Regions from separate parts of the Homo sapiens genome. Here region 2 is linked to region 1. Evidence: fine-mapped expression QTL. Tissue or cell type: whole blood. Region 1 holds a variant in brackets; the other region holds the start of a gene. All regions are shown on one strand. Distances are between the middles of the regions.

The links. PIP is the estimated chance that this variant, and not a neighbour inherited with it, causes the effect.
Region 2: it holds the start of ZNF132, and the variant in region 1 is fine-mapped to the expression of ZNF132 in whole blood (TOPMed, PIP 0.96).

The regions. Positions count from the first base shown.
Region 1 is chr19:58,410,472-58,418,573 of GRCh38, forward strand. ZNF584 (zinc finger protein 584) reads left to right here. Exons shown (of 4, transcript NM_173548.3): 3 at 5,053-5,175; 4 at 6,340-7,856. The coding sequence ends at 7,313. It also overlaps a transcript of ZNF324B not described here. Among named protein-coding and RNA genes, the nearest start is that of ZNF584, 5.9 kb to the left of the region's middle. The variant T/C (reference allele first, on the strand shown) is at 4,646.
Region 2 is chr19:58,436,922-58,445,023 of GRCh38, forward strand. ZNF132 (zinc finger protein 132) reads right to left here and starts at 3,232. Exons shown (of 3, transcript NM_003433.4): 1 at 2,838-3,232; 2 at 126-294. The coding sequence starts at 2,900. It overlaps ZNF132-DT (ZNF132 divergent transcript), which reads left to right and starts at 3,527. Exons shown (of 1, transcript NR_186311.1): 1 at 3,527-7,580. It also overlaps a transcript of ZNF324B not described here and the pseudogene LOC100419848. RefSeq lists enhancers at 2,898-3,408, 3,641-3,770, 3,920-4,429.

The DNA.
Region 1 (8,102 bases):
CCTGGGCCAGGCTTGAGCCATGAATTTTAATCAGAACGGTTTGGGAAATATATATATATATATATATATATATATATATATATATATGTGTATATATATATGTATATATATGTATATATATGTATATATATGTATATATATGTGTATATATGTGTATATATGTGTATATATATGTGTATATATGTGTATATATGTATATATGTGTATATATATGTATATATGTATATATATATGTATATATGTGTATATATATATGTATATATATATATGTGTGTATATATATATATATATGTATATATATATATAATTTTTTTTTTTTTTTTTTTTTTTTTTTTTTTGAGACAGAGCCTCACTCTGTTGCCCAGGCTGGAGTGCAGTGGCGCAATCTCGGCTCACCACAACCTCTGCCTCCAGGGTTCAAGCGATTCTCCTGCCTCAGTCTCCCGAGTAGCTGGGACTACAGGCTCGCGCCACCATGCCTGGCTAATTTTTGTATTTTTAGTAGAGACAGGGTTTCACTTTGTTGGCCAGGCTGGTCTTGAACTCCGGACCTCATGATCTGCCTGCCTTGGCCTCTCAAAGTGCTGGGATTACAGGCGTGAGCCACTGCGCCTGGCCACAAAGGTACTTCTTTCGTTAAATTTATTCCTAAGTACTTTATTCTTCACTGTTAAGTATGGTGTTAGCTGTTGGTTTTTTGCAGATGCCCATTTCAGGTGAGGAAGTTCCCTTCTCTTTCTAGTTCATTTAATGTGTTTATTAAGAAAAGTCATGGCCAGGTGCAGTGGCTCATGCCTGTAATTTCAGCATTTTGGGAGGGCGAGGCAGGTGGATTACCTGAGGTCAGGAGTTCAAGACCAGCGTGGTCAACATGGTGAAACCCCATCTCTACTAAAAATAGAAAACTAGCCAGGTGTGGTGGCACATGCCTGTAATCCCAGCTACTAGGGAAGCTGAGGCAGGAGAATCGCTTGAACCTGGGAGGTGGAGGTTGCAGTGAGCTGAGATCGCACCATTGCACTCCAGCCTGGGCAACAAGAGTGAAACTACGTCTCAAAAAAAAAAAAGAAAAGAAAGGTCACTAGATTTTGTCAAATGCTTTTCCAATGTCTAATGAAATGATCATGTGATTTTTGTCCTCTCTTCTGTTAATGTAGTATATTAGAATAATTGATTGCCTTTTCTTTTTTTGAGACGGAGTCTTGTTCTGTCGCCAGGCTGGAGTGCAGTGGCGCGATCTCGGCTCACTGCAACCTCCACCTCCCGGGTTCAAGTGATTTTCCTGCCTCAGCCTCCCAAGTAGCTGGGACTATAGGCGTGCACCACCACGCCCAGCTAATTTTTGTATTTTTCGTAGAGATGGGGTTTCACCATGTTTGCAAGGATGGTCTTGATCTCTTGACCTCGTGATCTGCCCCCGTCGGCCTCCCAACACTAATTGTTGATTTTCATATGTTCAACCTTGCATTACTGGGATAAATTCCCTGTCATGGCTTATAATACTTGTTTTTTTTTTTTTTTTTTTTTTTAGACAGAGTCTTACTCTGTCGCCCAGGCTGGAGTTCAGTGGCATGATCTCGGCTCATTGCAACCTCCACCTCTTGGGTTCAAGTGATTCTCCTGCCCCCGCCTCCTGAGTAGCTGGGTTACAGGCATGCACCACTATGCCTGGCTAATTTTTTTATTTTTAGTAGAGACAGGGGTTTCACCATGTTGGCCAGGGTGGTCTTTTTTTTTTTTTTTTTTTTTGAGACGGAGTCTCGCTCTGTCGCCCAGGCCGGACTGCGGACTGCAGTGGCGCAATCTCGACTCACTGCAAGCTCCGCTTCCCGGGTTCACGCCATTCTCCTGCCTCAGCCTCCCGAGTAGCTGGGACTACAGGCGCCCGCCACCGCGCCCGGCTAATTTTTTGTATTTTTAGTAGAGACGGGGTTTCACCTTGTTAGCCAGGATGGTCTCAATCTCCTGACCTCATGATCCACTCGCCTCGGCCTCCCAAAGTGCTGGGATTACAGGCGTGAGCCACCACGCCCGGCCTGGCCAGGGTGGTCTTGAACTCCCGACCTCAGGTGATCCACCCATCTCGGCCTCCAAAGTGCTGAGATTACAGGTGTGAGCCACCACACCCAGCCAGTGGTGTAGTTTTCTTATAATGTCTCTGTATTGAGTATGAGGGTAATTTTGGCCTCAATGGATGAGTTGGGAATGTTTCCTTCTCTTCTGTTTTCTGGAAGAGTTTCTTAAGTATTGGTGTTAATTCTTATTTCAGTATTGTTAGTATTCACCTTTGAAGCCATCAGGGCTTGGGGTTGTGTGTGTTTTGGGGGGAATGTTTTTTAATAACAACAAGAAAACCCTCTTTGTTACATTTGTATTTAGATTTTCTGTTTCTTCTTGACTCAGTTTTGATAGTTTGTGTCTACTTGGGAATTTGTCCATTTCATCTAAGTTATCCAATTTGTTGGCATACATTTGTACATAGTATTTCATTATTTTTTAATTTTTATAAGGTTACTAGTGATGTCCTTTTTCCATTCCTGTTCAAAGTAGTATTGAGTCTTCTCTCTGTTTTTTGTCACTCTAGGTAAACATTTGCCAATTTTGTTGATTTTTTCAAAGAACCAAATTTTGGTTTGTCGGTTCTCTTTTTCTAATCTGTTTCATTCGTTTCTGCTCTAATTTTTATTATTTCCCTCCTTTTGCTATCTTTGGGTTTGTTTTTCTTTTTCTTGTTCCTTGAGGTATAAAGTTAGGTTATTGGTTTGAGATCTTTTAAAATATGGGTATTTATAGCCATAATGTTCCTGCTAAGCTCTGCATTTTCTGCATCCCATAATTTTTTGTTTGTTGTGGTATTTTTTTCTTTTTCTTTTTCTTTTTTTTTAATTTTTCTTTTTGAGATGGAGTCCTGTTGCCCACGCTGGAATGCAATGGTGCGATCTCGGCTCAATGCAATCTCCACCTCCTGGGTTCAAGCAATTCTGCTGCCTCAGCCTCCCAAGTCGCTGGGATTACAGGCATGTGCCACCATGCCTGGCTAATTTTTTTTTTTTTTTGAGGTGGAGTCTGATGCCTCCCAGGCTGGAGTGCAGTGGTGCGATCTTGGCTCACTGCAACCTCCGCCCCCCAAGTTCAAGCGATTCTCCTGCCTCAGCCTCCCGAGTGGCATGGTCCACCACACCTGGCTAATTTTTGTATTTTTTTTTTTTGGTAGAGACAGGGTTTCGCCATGTTGGCCAGGCTGGTCTTGAACTCCAGACCACAGGTGATCCACCCACCTCAGCCTACCAAAGTGCTGGGATTACAGGCGTGAGCCACCACCCGGCCTGTTGTATTTTTCTTTTCTTTTCTTTTTTTCTTTTTTTGAGATGGAGTCTTGCTCTGTCACCCAGGCTGGAGTGCAGTGGCACTATCTCGGCTCACTGCAAGCTCCGCCTCCTGGATTCATGCCATTCTCCTGCCTCAGCCTCCCGAGTATCTGGGATTACAGGCGCCCACCACCACGCCTGGCTAATTTTTTTTTGTATTTTTAGTAGAGACGGGGCTTCACTGTGTTCGGCAGGATGGTCTCAAACTCCTGACCTTGTGATCCACCTGCCTCGGCCTCCCAAAGTGCTGGGATTACACTTGAGCCACCACACCCAGCCCTGTGTTTTTATTTTCATTCCTCCCAAAGTACTTGTAATTGTCATGTGATTTATTTTTTCTTTGACTCTGGATTTTTAGGAATGTTTTGTTTAAATTCCTTAAATTTGTGAGTTTCCTAAATTTCTTTCTGTTGTTGATTTCTGTTTTAATTCATTTGTGGACAGAGAACATACTTGACATTATTTCAATCCTTTGAAATCTACTGAGGCTTGCTTTATTTATTTATTTATTTATTTTGAGACAGAGTCTTGCTCTGTCGCCCAGGCTGGAGTGCAGTGGCGCGATCTCAGCTCACTGCAAGCTCTGCCTCCTGGGTTCACGCCATTCTCCTGCCTCAGCCTCCTGAGTAGCTGGGACTACAGGCGCCTGCCACCATGCCCGGGTAATTTTTTTTTTGTATTTTTAGTAGAGATGGGGTTTCACTGTGTTAGCCAGGATGGTCTTGATCTCCTGACCTCATGATCTGCCCGTCTCGGCCTCCCAAAGTGCTGGGATTACAGGCATGAGCCACCGCGCCCAGCCGAGGCTTATTTTATATCCTAGCAAATGGTATGTTCTGAAGACCGTTCCATGTGCACGTGACAATGTATATCCTGCTGTTGTTAGGTGGCAAGCTCTATAGATGTCTGTTAGGACTAGTTGGTTTTCATTGTTGTTCAAGTCTGCTGTTGTTATTGATGGTGGGAAATTACAATCGTTATTATTGCTGAACAGTCTGTTTCTTCAGTTATGTCAGTTTTGCTTCATAGAAAGGCTTTTTTTTTTCTTTTTGTTTGTTTGTTTGTGTTTTTGAGACAGAGTCTCGCACTGTCGCCCAGGCTGGAGTGCAGTGGTGTGATCTCAGCTCACTGCAAGCTCTGCCTCCCAGGTTCATGCCATTCTCCTGCCTAAGCCTCCCGAGTAGCTGGGACTACAGGTGCCCGTCACCACATCCGCCTGATTTTTTTGTATTTTTAGTAGAAGGGGGGTTTCACCGTGTTAGCCAGGATAGTCTTGA[T/C]CTCCTGACCTCGTGATCCGCCCACCTTGGCCTCCCAAAGTGCTGGGATTACAGGCGTGAGCCACTGCGCCCGGCCTGTTTGTTTGTTTTTGAGACAGGGTCTCACTCTGTTGCCCAGGCTAGAGTCCAATGGTGTGATCGTGACTCACTGACGCTTTGACCTCCTAGGCTCAAGTGATCCTCTCACTATGGCCTCCCTAGTAACTGGGACTACAGGTGGTGCATGCCATCATGCCTGGCTAATTAAAATAATATATTTTTTGTAGAGTTGGGGTCTTACTGTGTTGCCCAGGCTGGTTGCGAACGTCTGGGTTTAAGTGATCTCCTACCTCACTTTCCAAAGTGCTGGGATTACAGGCATCAGCCACCATGCCCAGCCTGTTTCTTTTACTACCTGTCACCCGCAGGACTTGCACCTTCGAGATCCCCTGTGTTTACCCAGCTGGAGGATGATGAACAGTCGTGGGTGCCCAGCTGGGTGGATGTGACTCCAGTCAGCAGAGCAGAAGCCAGGAGAGGTTTTGGTCTTGGTAAGTGGAGTGGAGGGGAATACCTTGGTTTCAGCAGTGGGCTCACAGAATGCTGAGTACCTGCATACACCGATACCTTGGTGTTGAGGGCAGTGACCATACCTTATTTCCTTCCACCTTTCCTGTCTTATGTGGACACTGTGCAGTCTGCCATCTCTACCATGATTTTCAGGCCCCGCATGTTCCTGCCTCTCTGGCCTGCGTCTCCTCATTGCCCTTCTCTGTATCTGTGCAGAGCTGTCTACTGTTGGCGACTCAGTGCGTGTCTTGAAATGTGCACATATCCTTAAACAGGTATTTGAACTTCAGCCAATCCTTAATTAATACTTAAACACCAGCTACTATTTTGGAATCACATTTTGCTGGGACTAGACACATGCCTCCTCATAGTGCTTGGCTGTCACCAGCAGCCAAGGCCCTGCTGAAACCCTTTGCAGAGGAGTGACTTGGAGACCCCACCTCTCTTCCCTGCACCATATCCTATCTTGTGCCCTCATCTCAGTTGAGGTTTTCCTTAGTCTGTAGTCTGGTGGAGCCATATTCAGTTGTGCCAGGCTTTCCCAACCCAGACCTTTCCTAGCAACCTCTCAGCAATTCTTTTTTTTTTAAGATGGAGTTTTGCTCTTATTGCCCAGGCTGGAGTGCAGTGGCGCAATCTCAGCTCACTGCAACCTCTGCCTCCTGGGTTCATGCCATTCTCCTGCCTCAGCCTCTTGAGTAGCTGGGACTACAGGCGCCTGCCACCATGCCTGGCTAATTTTTTTTTTTTTTTTTGAGTCGGAGTTTTGCTCTTACTGCCCAGGCTGGAGTGCAGTGGCGCGATCTCAGCTCACTGCAGCCTCTGCCTCTGGATTCAAGTGATCCTCCTGCCTCAGCCTCCCGAGTAGCTGGGATTACAGGCATGCATCACCACACCCGGCTAATTTTGTATTTTTAGAAGAGATGGGGTTTCGTCGTGTTGGTCAGGCTGGTCTCGAACTCCTGACCTCACGTGATCTGCCCGCCTTGGCCTCCCAAAGCACTGGGATTACAGGCGTGAGCCACCACGCCTGGCCCTTTCAGCAGTTCTATGGAGTCCTTCTGGGTGTGTCTGACATGCACTGGTGATTAAGGTACCTCCTCCCTCTAGTTCAACTCTTAGTAATGATTCATCTCTGCTTTCAGATGGTTTGTGTAGAGTGGAGGATGAGAGAGCCCATCCTGAGCATCTAAAGAGCTACAGAGTCATCCAGCACCAGGACACTCATAGTGAGGGGAAACCAAGAAGGCACACTGAGCATGGGGCAGCTTTCCCACCTGGTTCCAGTTGTGGGCAACAGCAAGAAGTCCATGTGGCAGAGAAGCTGTTCAAATGCAGTGACTGTGGGAAGGTGTTCTTAAAGGCCTTTGCCCTCCTTGACCATCTGATAACGCATTCTGAAGAGAGACCCTTCAGATGCCCAACAGGCAGAAGTGCTTTCAAGAAGTCAGCTCATATTAACCCCCGAAAAATTCACACTGGAGAAACAGCCCATGTGTGTAATGAATGTGGGAAGGCCTTCAGTTACCCGTCTAAGCTGAGGAAACACCAGAAGGTTCACACAGGCATAAAACCTTTTAAGTGTAGTGACTGTGGTAAAACCTTCAACCGCAAAGACGCACTTGTTCTACACCAGAGGATTCACACTGGAGAAAGGCCTTACGAGTGCAGCAAATGTGGTAAAACCTTCAGTGTTCTGTCTACCCTCATTCGGCACCGGAAAGTGCACATTGGAGAAAGGCCCTATGAGTGTACAGAATGTGGGAAGTTCTTTAAATACAATAATAGCTTCATTCTTCACCAGAGAGTTCACACTGGAGAAAGGCCTTTTGAATGCAAGCAATGTGGGAAAGGCTACGTGACCCGTTCAGGCCTCTATCAGCACTGGAAAGTCCACACTGGGGAACGGCCCTATGAATGTAGCCTGTGTGGGAAAACCTTCACTACCAGATCCTACCGCAATCGGCACCAGCAGTTCCACACTGAAGAGAGGTCTTATGAATGTACAGAGTGTGGGAAGGCCTTCAAACATAGTTCCACCCTCCTTCAGCACAAGAAAGTCCATACTCCAGAAAGGCGTCAGGAGGACAGGGCACATGGGAAGGTCGTTAGCTGCTAGCACCGTGTTCATCAGGAAAGGTCTTATTCCAGAAAGGAGGTTAAGGAGAGTGGCCGTGAGAGTGCCATCCGAAAGAAGCTAAACCTTGCACATCCCAACACCCACCCCAGGGAGAGTTCCCGTGTGTGCCTGGTGTGTGGGACGCTTTCGGGAGCCACATTGCACTCTGACTTGCCTGGGGCTGTTGGCAGTGTCACATCACTGAGTTTATCCACCGCCATCCACCTCTATCCACCCCATAAGGTCCCTACAGCAAGTGGGACAGCAGACCTTGTGCTCCTTGCTCTAAACAGTAGAGAATCGTTAATAGTGGAGCCCAAAACAGGCCTCATTCCCTACCCTTGACTGGTTTAGCTGTGGACATGACCCACCTCTGGCCGGAGGAGCTGAGCTGGTATCTGCTGGGGGCTTCCTGGGAAGGTTTACCATTTTCATGGAAATGGTTGACATTACACATGGTATTTGTCATGCCCTAGCATGGACTGTCTCATACTGCTCTGGACTATGTGGTAATAAAGGCTTTATTGTTTAAGCCGCTTAAAATTTTTTTTTTATTTTTTTTTTGAGATGGTCTTATTCTGTTGCCCAGGCTGGAATGCAGTGGTGCCATCATAGCTCACCACAGCCTTGAACTGCTGGTCTCAAGGGATCTTCCTGCTTCAGCCTCCTGAGTAGCTGGCACTACAGGTGTGCGCCATCACACCTGGCTAATTTTTTTTTTTCATTTGTGGACAGGGTCTTGCTATATTGCCCAAGCTGGTCTCGAACTCTGAGCCTCAAGCTATCCTC
Region 2 (8,102 bases), 26 kb after region 1:
ACCTACAACAGGAAACCCGAGAAGGAAGCAGTACCCATGATCTGGCTTTGGGATGAACAGAGCTTTCTATGGGGAAAAGACACAAGGCATAAGGTAGTCATCACCATGCTGAGACAGGGCATTACCAAGTGAGGTCACAAGCTCAAGGTTTTCCAGCATCACACTGTGGTACAGGTGCCTCTGGGCTGCATCAAGGAGCTCCCACTCCTCTTGGGAGAAGTATACAGCCACATCTTCAAAGGTTACCATGCTCTTCAATGTGGGGACAGCTGAGCCACAGGGCCAAGAAGTATGCTGACAAAGAAACAAACAATTGGTCAAATGGAAATATGCAGGACCTTGCTGTGTGACTCAGAATCCTGATACATCTACCACTAATATCTCTTTTTCTTATGATCCTCTCAGTCCACCCACTACTCACCCATCCACAGCTTATCTTCTTCCTCAGGGCCCCCACCTAACATGCCCTGGAATTAATGGTGCCCCTCTCTCCTAGTAGTCCCACTGGTCACTGTATCCAGGCCAACCCAACCTAGAGGAACAATAGGCAGGTGGGCAGATGGATGCTTCCTCCTCCCTCCTGCTGGCCAATTTTCCTTGTGTCTTCTGGCTCATACCTCCCAAACATAAGAAAATTTGGGCTTCCCTTTCTTAAGCCTCTTGTACCAGGGCCATGGGCCCAATGGTTCACATTCTCTCACCTTTACATGTCACTCCTCAGACCATACAGTTCTTATATTTCCAACCCCTCCCTGTTCACACTGTAGGCATTCTCCCTAGCATCTCACCATGCACATGGCATACCTGACAGATGCAACCGGGATCCATTCCTGGTCCAAGCCAGCTACAGAGCTCCAAAAACCCCACTGCAAGAGGCAGTCATAGCCCCTCAAGTCAATGCCTCCCCTGCCAGCCCTGTTCCTTCAACCATCAGCTGCCCAGAACCATAAGCAGATCTCAAATATCTCTTCCCTCTGATATCTTTGCCTTTGTATGTGTTGTCTCCTCCCCAGTCATAGCTGTCCTTGCTCTTCCTAACACTCAAATCCAAGATCCACTGGCCCCCACCTTGGCTTGGGGACTCAGCTTAGGCTGACCCTTTCTGATCTTGCCACTCCACCAGCCTGACAAAAACCCCAGGACCCTATTTAAGAAGAGATAACATGCCCTGACCACAAGAAGGATGGCCGCAACAATGTAGTGAGCTGTAGAGAAGCAAATCAACCTAAACCAAAGCCCAACTCTCATCCTACTTTTGCCGCTATGCTTCACTGTTGTCCTAGACCTACTCTCTGCTCAGGAGGCTCAGCCACTATCTTGAACCCAACCCACAACTGCATGCAGTGTCCACACACAAGCATCCATCCCTTGGATGTTTCCAGCCTAAACCCGACATAATTTCATAATCACATGTTTAGTGGTCTACTTGGCACCTCAATTTGGTAGTGTCTGGGACATCTCAAATACAACATGGCCAAAATCCAACTCTTTATCTTCCCCCTGAAATCTACTCCTCACACCAACTTCCACATCTGAAAGATCTAAGGTCAATTTTTTTTTTTTTTTTTTTGAGACAGAGTCTCGCTCTGTCACCCAGGTTGGAGTGCAGTGGCGCGATCTTGGCTCACTGCAAGCTCCGCCTCCCGGGTTCAAGCCATTCTCCTGCCTCAGCCTCCCGAGTAGCTGGGACTACAGGCACCCACCACCACGCCTGACTAATTTTTTGTATTTTTAGTAGAGATGGGGTTTCACCGTGTTAGCCAGGATGGTCTCAATCTCCTGACCTAGTGATCCACCTGCCTCGGCCTCCCAAAGTGCTGGGATTACAGGCGTGAGCCACCACGCCCGGCAATTTTTTTTTTTTTTTAAGACAGAGTCTCGCTCTGTCACTCAGGCTGGAGCGCAGTGGCACGATCTCAGCTCAATGCAACCTCCATCTCCCAGATTCAAACAGTTCTTCTGCCTCAGTTTCCCAAGTTGCTGGGATTACAGGTGCACACTACCATGTCCTGGCTAATTTTTCTGTATTTTTAGTAGAGGTGGGGTTTCGCCACGTTGGCCAGGCTGGTCTTGAACTCCTGACCTCAAGTGATCTGGCCGCCTTGGCCTCCCAAAGTGCTGGGATTACAAGTGTGAGCCACTGCACTCAGCCTTAGGTCAATCTTAACATTTCACTTTCTTTCACTGTCCCACATCAGGTAATCCATGGCCCAGTTTGGGCAGATTCAGAAGCCAACCATCTGTCCTACCTCCACGGGCACCCCTCTGTCCAGCTACCCAAAGCACACATCTGGACCACATCTGTCAGCTCCTCACTGGCCTTCCTGCTCCACCATCACCATCCCTCCAGTCTGCTGCCCACTAGGCATCCATAGGGCGTCTGTTAAGACTGGAGTCAGAGCACCTACTTCCTCTACTCCAAACCTTCCATGGCTCCCACCACCATCAGAATAGAGGTCCAGCTCCTCAGGCTGCCATTCCAGGCCTAACTATTGGTTTCCCTTCCCTGTTTCCACCAGACTAAATGGAGACCGGCAGTCCCCAGAATGCTTCCATTTCATCACCACTAAACAAGGTACACATGCTGGTCACTGTCCCTGGGACAGCCTTCCAGATCTCATTCCACAGGATTCCAGAAATGGGAATCCCTCGATATAACCCCTTGCCTGGATTCAGGATGGTAAGGGTAAGTGACTCCCAGGGCAGGGCCCAGGACCCACGTGTGAGGACAGGACACGATCAAGAGTCCCAGGACACCAACATCCCCTCTATCTGGGCTTCAGGATCCTGAGGGCCGGAATCCCAGCGGGTGAGGGCCTGGGGCACACTCCACTTACCTGCGCCGGGCCCATCAGCAACGCTGGCAACCCCATTAGAACCTGTGGGCTGGGCAGGGCCATAACAGGAGGCCCAGGGCTAGCCCTGCCGCTGGGCCGAACCCTCACACTTCCGCTGGGTGACGGTCGCACTCAGGACCTGTCTTCCCAAATGCAAAATGCGCGCAAGGCCTCTGGGCACCGCAGGGACGAAGGCTGGGTATGGAGACCCTGGAGACGCGTGGCGCTGGCTCCACTTTCGGGAACACCTTGGCTCATAAAAGCAGAGTAATTAGCCGGGCACTATGGTGCGTGTGAAGGCGCGGTGACGGTCCCTGCACCCACTCCCGTGCCCTGGTGTGGCTCCAGAGGCCTGCTGTAGCCCAACCCACCAGCAGCAAAATGAGGACCGCAATGGCGGCGCCGGAAGTCCCGCCTCTCAATGACAGCTCGGACTTGCCACTGGTCCGAGCTTTCATTGGCTCAAGGATCCCCGCCGTCTATGACGCTATTTCCCTATGCCCGTCACGCTACTGCTAGGTCGTTGCCAAGGTGATTGAGGAATGGCGTTTATTGCGTCGCTGCTCAGGCAACGCAAACTACATTATCCAGAAGGACCCTCGCGGTGCCTCAGGGCTGGCCATTGGCAGCCGAGGAGACAGGCACTTCCGGGCGGAGTGTAAGACGCTGGCCAATCACAGCCTGGCAGCGGGACTTCCGTCGTCGTCCTCGGACCATCACTTTGGCATTTCTCGATTTTGTCTGCTTCTGAAGGGACCGCGTTGTCAGGCGAGGGACGGAATCTTGGAGGCTCCCTGGGCCCATGGAAACAGGAGCGAGGAAGGCACGAGAGTCGGGGAAGTTCCGCCTTCTTGACATACAAGCGCCCCCACCGCGGCGAATATCGCCCCTGAGCCCAGTGTTCGCCCCCCACAACACCGCACCCCCCTTCCCCACCCTGTGCCTTAGATAAAGCCGGCCCAGTGGGACCCTCAGGTTGCACCGCGCGGAGGTGTCCGCGGCTCTCGGGAGTCGTCGCCCTTGGCGTTATGTTGGCTTTAGGGAGCGCGAGGCCGAGGCCAAGAAAAGCTACGCATTGGGAGGTCTTGACCCAGTGTGCGCCCGGCTGTAGGCATGGAACGTGCGCCAAAGGTCTCCTGGCACCCACTCCGCTGGACTCAGCACCATTGTCCTAAGTCTCCGATTGAGAAGTATCTGCCCCAGGTCCTCTGCGGGCCCCACTGAACAGTGTGGAGCGTTCACAGGTTGGGGGTCACCATTTCAGAATCCAGTTTGTTGAGACGTGGAGGGTACAGGAGGAGGGATCTGCATATGCGAAGACTTGGACTTGACCCTGACCTGAGCGTTCAGGCAGGCTCTCATGCCCCCTTGGCAGCGAGTGGAGAGCGTAAGAGGAGTCCTGCCTCTCCTGGCACACCGAGGGCGCCTGGGAGCCATGAAAGGTGTTGAACAGAAAAGGGATGGACATGACCTGAGTTAGAATTTGGAAAGTATTTCAGTGGTTGCTGAATGAACACACTACTGGAGAAGGTGGTTGTAGTGGGGCTGGAAGCAGGGAGACTGTGGGGGAGGTTATTGCAGTATTGTTCCAGACAGTTATGATAGTGGCCTGTCCAGAACGGAAGCAAGAAGGATGGGAGAAGTGATCAGATTCCCAGTGGATCTTCAAGATAGAGCTAATGGAATTTTTTGCTACCTTAGATAAGTGGAATAAGCATGAGTAGGGGTGAAGGACCATCCCAAGTAGTTAGGAAGAATTAGGATGCCTCCTGTGGAGAATAGAGGTTGGCAGTTGGCAGGAGGAGGATGTTTCATGGAAGATTAGCGATGGATTTTGTAGGTATAGAGTCTGAATTGTCTGGAGACCTGTGAGTGGAGGTGTCAAATGGGCCTCTGGATATATAGAATTCTGGTGTGGCTTCAGGACGTCCAGACTGCATTATGTTGGTGGCCTGGCCCAGTGAACGGCCTGAGGATAGGATTTGGGAAGGAGGGTTTTAGGTTGGAGGACCAGTGGCTAGGGCTCACGCTCAGTGCTTAGATCACATCTGTCTGCCCATTGGCTTGGTGTTGCAGGGCTTAATGACCTTTGAGGACAGGGTCAGTACATCTTCCAAGAATGTGGGGCTCCTTAGTGAGGTCCAAGGGGGCTTCTACAGTGACATGATACTACAGAGCTTTGTACTCCAGTGCCCACTAGGTAAGGCTACTGTGTCTCCTCTTTCCCCTACACATGAAATCTAGGTTTTCCTCCGCCTTTCCATTGTTCCCTCTGGGAGGTGCTGCTGGCCCTGGCACTGGCCAGTGTCCTGCTGTGTCCGGAATTGTTTCCTTCCTCTGGGTTCTTGGTCTCGCTGACTTCAAGAATAAAGCCGCGGACCCTCGTGTTGAGTGTTACAGTTCTTTTTTTTTTTTTTTTTTGAGACGGAGTCTCGCTCTGTCGCCCAGGCCGGACTGCGGACTGCAGTGGCGCAATCTCGGCTCACTGCAAGCTCCGCTTCCCGGGTTCACGCCATTCTCCTGCCTCAGCCTCCCGAGCAGCTGGGACTACAGGCGCCCGCCACCGCACCCGGCTAATTTTTTTTTTTTGTATTTTTAGTAGAGACGGGGTTTCACCTTGTTAGCCAGGATGGTCTCGATCTCCTGACCTCATGATCCACCCGCCTCGGCCTCCCAAAGTGCTGGGATTACAGGCGTGAGCCACCGCGCCCGGCCCTGTTACAGTTCTTAAAGATGGTGTGTCCGGAGTTTGTTCCTTCAGATGTTCAGATGTGTCTGGAGTTTTTTCCTTCTGGTGGGTTCGTGGTCTTGCTGACTTCAGGAGTGAAGCTGCAGACCTTCGCAGTGAGTGTTACAGCTCTTAAAGGTGGCACATCCAGAGTTGTTCATTCCTCCTGGTGGGTTCGTGGTCTCGCTGACCTCAGGAGTGAAGCTGCAGACCTTTGCAATGAGTGTTACAGCTCGTAAAGGTGGCGTGTCCAATGTTGTTTGTTCCTCCCAGTGGGTTTGTGGTCTCGCTGGCTTCAGGAGTGAAGCTGCAGACCTTTGTGGTGAGTGTTATAGCTCATAAAGGTAGTGTGGACCCAAAGAGTGAGCAGCAGCAAGATTTATTGCGAAGAGCAAAAGAATAAAGCTTCTACAGCATGGAAGAGGACCCGCGGGTTGCCGCTGCTGGCTTGGGTGGCCAGCTTTTATTCTATTTGGCCCTGCCCACATCCTGCTGATTGGTCCATTATACAGAGCACTGATTGGTCCATTTTACAGAGCACTGATTGGTCCATTTTACAGAGCACTGATTGGTCCATTTTTACAGAGTGCTGATTGGTGAGTTTACAAACCTATAGCTAGACACAGAGTGCTGATTGGTGCATTTACAATCCTTTAGCTAGACAGAAAAGTTTTCCAAGTCCCCAGCCAATTAGCTAGACACAGAGCGCTGATTGGTGCGTTTACTAACCTTTAGGGAGACACAGAGCGCTGATTGGTGCATTTTTACAGAGTGCTGATTGGTGCGTTTACAAACCTTTAGCTAGACACAGAGCGCTGATTGGTGTGTTGGCAGTCCTTTAGCCGGACAGAAAAGTTCCCCAAGTCCCCACTGGACCCAGAAGCCCAGCCGGCTTCACTTTTCACTGCTACTTATCCCTGGCTGCTGCATAAACAACCCCCACACCTTCCCTGGGATCTTGACAACCTTGTGAAGCCACAGTGATGGTCCCTGCACCCACTCCCACGCCCTTGTCCAGCTCTAGAGGCCTCCTGTAGCCCAACCCACAAGCCACAAAATGAGGACCATCATGGCGGTGCCGGAAATCTCACCCCTCAATGCCCACCTGGAATCGGAAGTCTCAAAACCTGTGTAGCATATCACATGCAGCTGGGTCGTTTCCTGGCTAGGTTACCCTGTCAGGATCTGTGACTTTTCTGTCCTTTCTGCCACATTCCCTCACTCTAGTAGGAGTTTTCTGCCAGCTGTCCCTTGTGAGTCCCAGTGGGCACTGACATGGTCATTGATTGTGGGGTCACTGAGCATTGACTTTGTGAAGTTCAGTTCTTTCCAGCTATATACCTGCATAGGTGATCTTCACCTACGGTGATTTGTCATGGGGTGGATCACCTTGACGTGGGCTGCCTTCTCACAAACCACTTGATGAGAGCTGTATAGGATCACTGCCACCACCCCCGCCATGTGATCACCTAACTAGAACAAATGAAGAGACCTGGCTGGTGGACAGGGTGGCTTGAATTAGGCCATGGACAGAGAGGCCCCATGGTGCACCAGTTCTGTTGAGTGGAAGACAGCTGTGGCAGAGCTGTTGGCAGTGCCCTGGTGGCTCACCTGGTACCTGAGTTGTGCCCTCTGTTGTCCTGGCACCAGGATGTATAGCTGTGCCTTTTAAAAAAAATTTTCCTGACCTTCTTCTGACACTCTATCCTACTTTGCCCTGACTCCTGTTCCCTGGATGGCTTCCTCTCTGTCTTCCAAGATTCACTCTTTCCCCTTCTCCCGTCCTCCCCTCCAGTGGCCAGGTCTTCTACCATTGGCCTCCCTTTAATGTGTCTTGAACGGATAATGTATCTTTAAATAGTTGTTATCTGCACATGGTGGCTCATAACTACAGTCCCAACTACTTGGGATGCTGAGGCAGGAGGAGCGCTTGAGACCAGGAGTTTGAGTCCAGCTTGGGCAACATAACGAGATCCTATCTCTAAAATAAATAAATAAATACATAGATACCTAAATAGTTTTTGAAAACCTCTTCTTCCGTGAGACTGGCTTGTTCCATTTGAGGAGTATGGGCATAGGTGTCAATGGTTCAAGACCTGGACTTCGCTCACTGCATGGTACTGACCTGTCACCAGACACTAGGGCCCTGCAGCTCCACATTTTGCAGAACCTACAGAGAACTGACACTGAAGAGATAGCTGATAAATACACAGCATATGGAAAGGTGTTTGAGGGGAAGCAAGCCTTTTCTCCTACCAAAAAACTTCACAGTGGAAAAAATTGCAAGTGTATTATGAGCATGGGAAGGCCTTCACTTTTGTCTTCATCCTGAGAAAGCAGGAGTACATGCACATCTTCAAAGGCCCTTACAAGTATAGTAACATGGGGAATCCTCCAGCCAGAACTCTACCTCCTTTGAGCACCAATATGTTCACCCCAGAGAAAGTCCCCATAAGCGCAAGGAGTGTGGTCCAGCCATGAGCAAAATTTTGCAAAACTCTCCTCTGTATCAAAATGGTCATACCCTAATGAAGGAC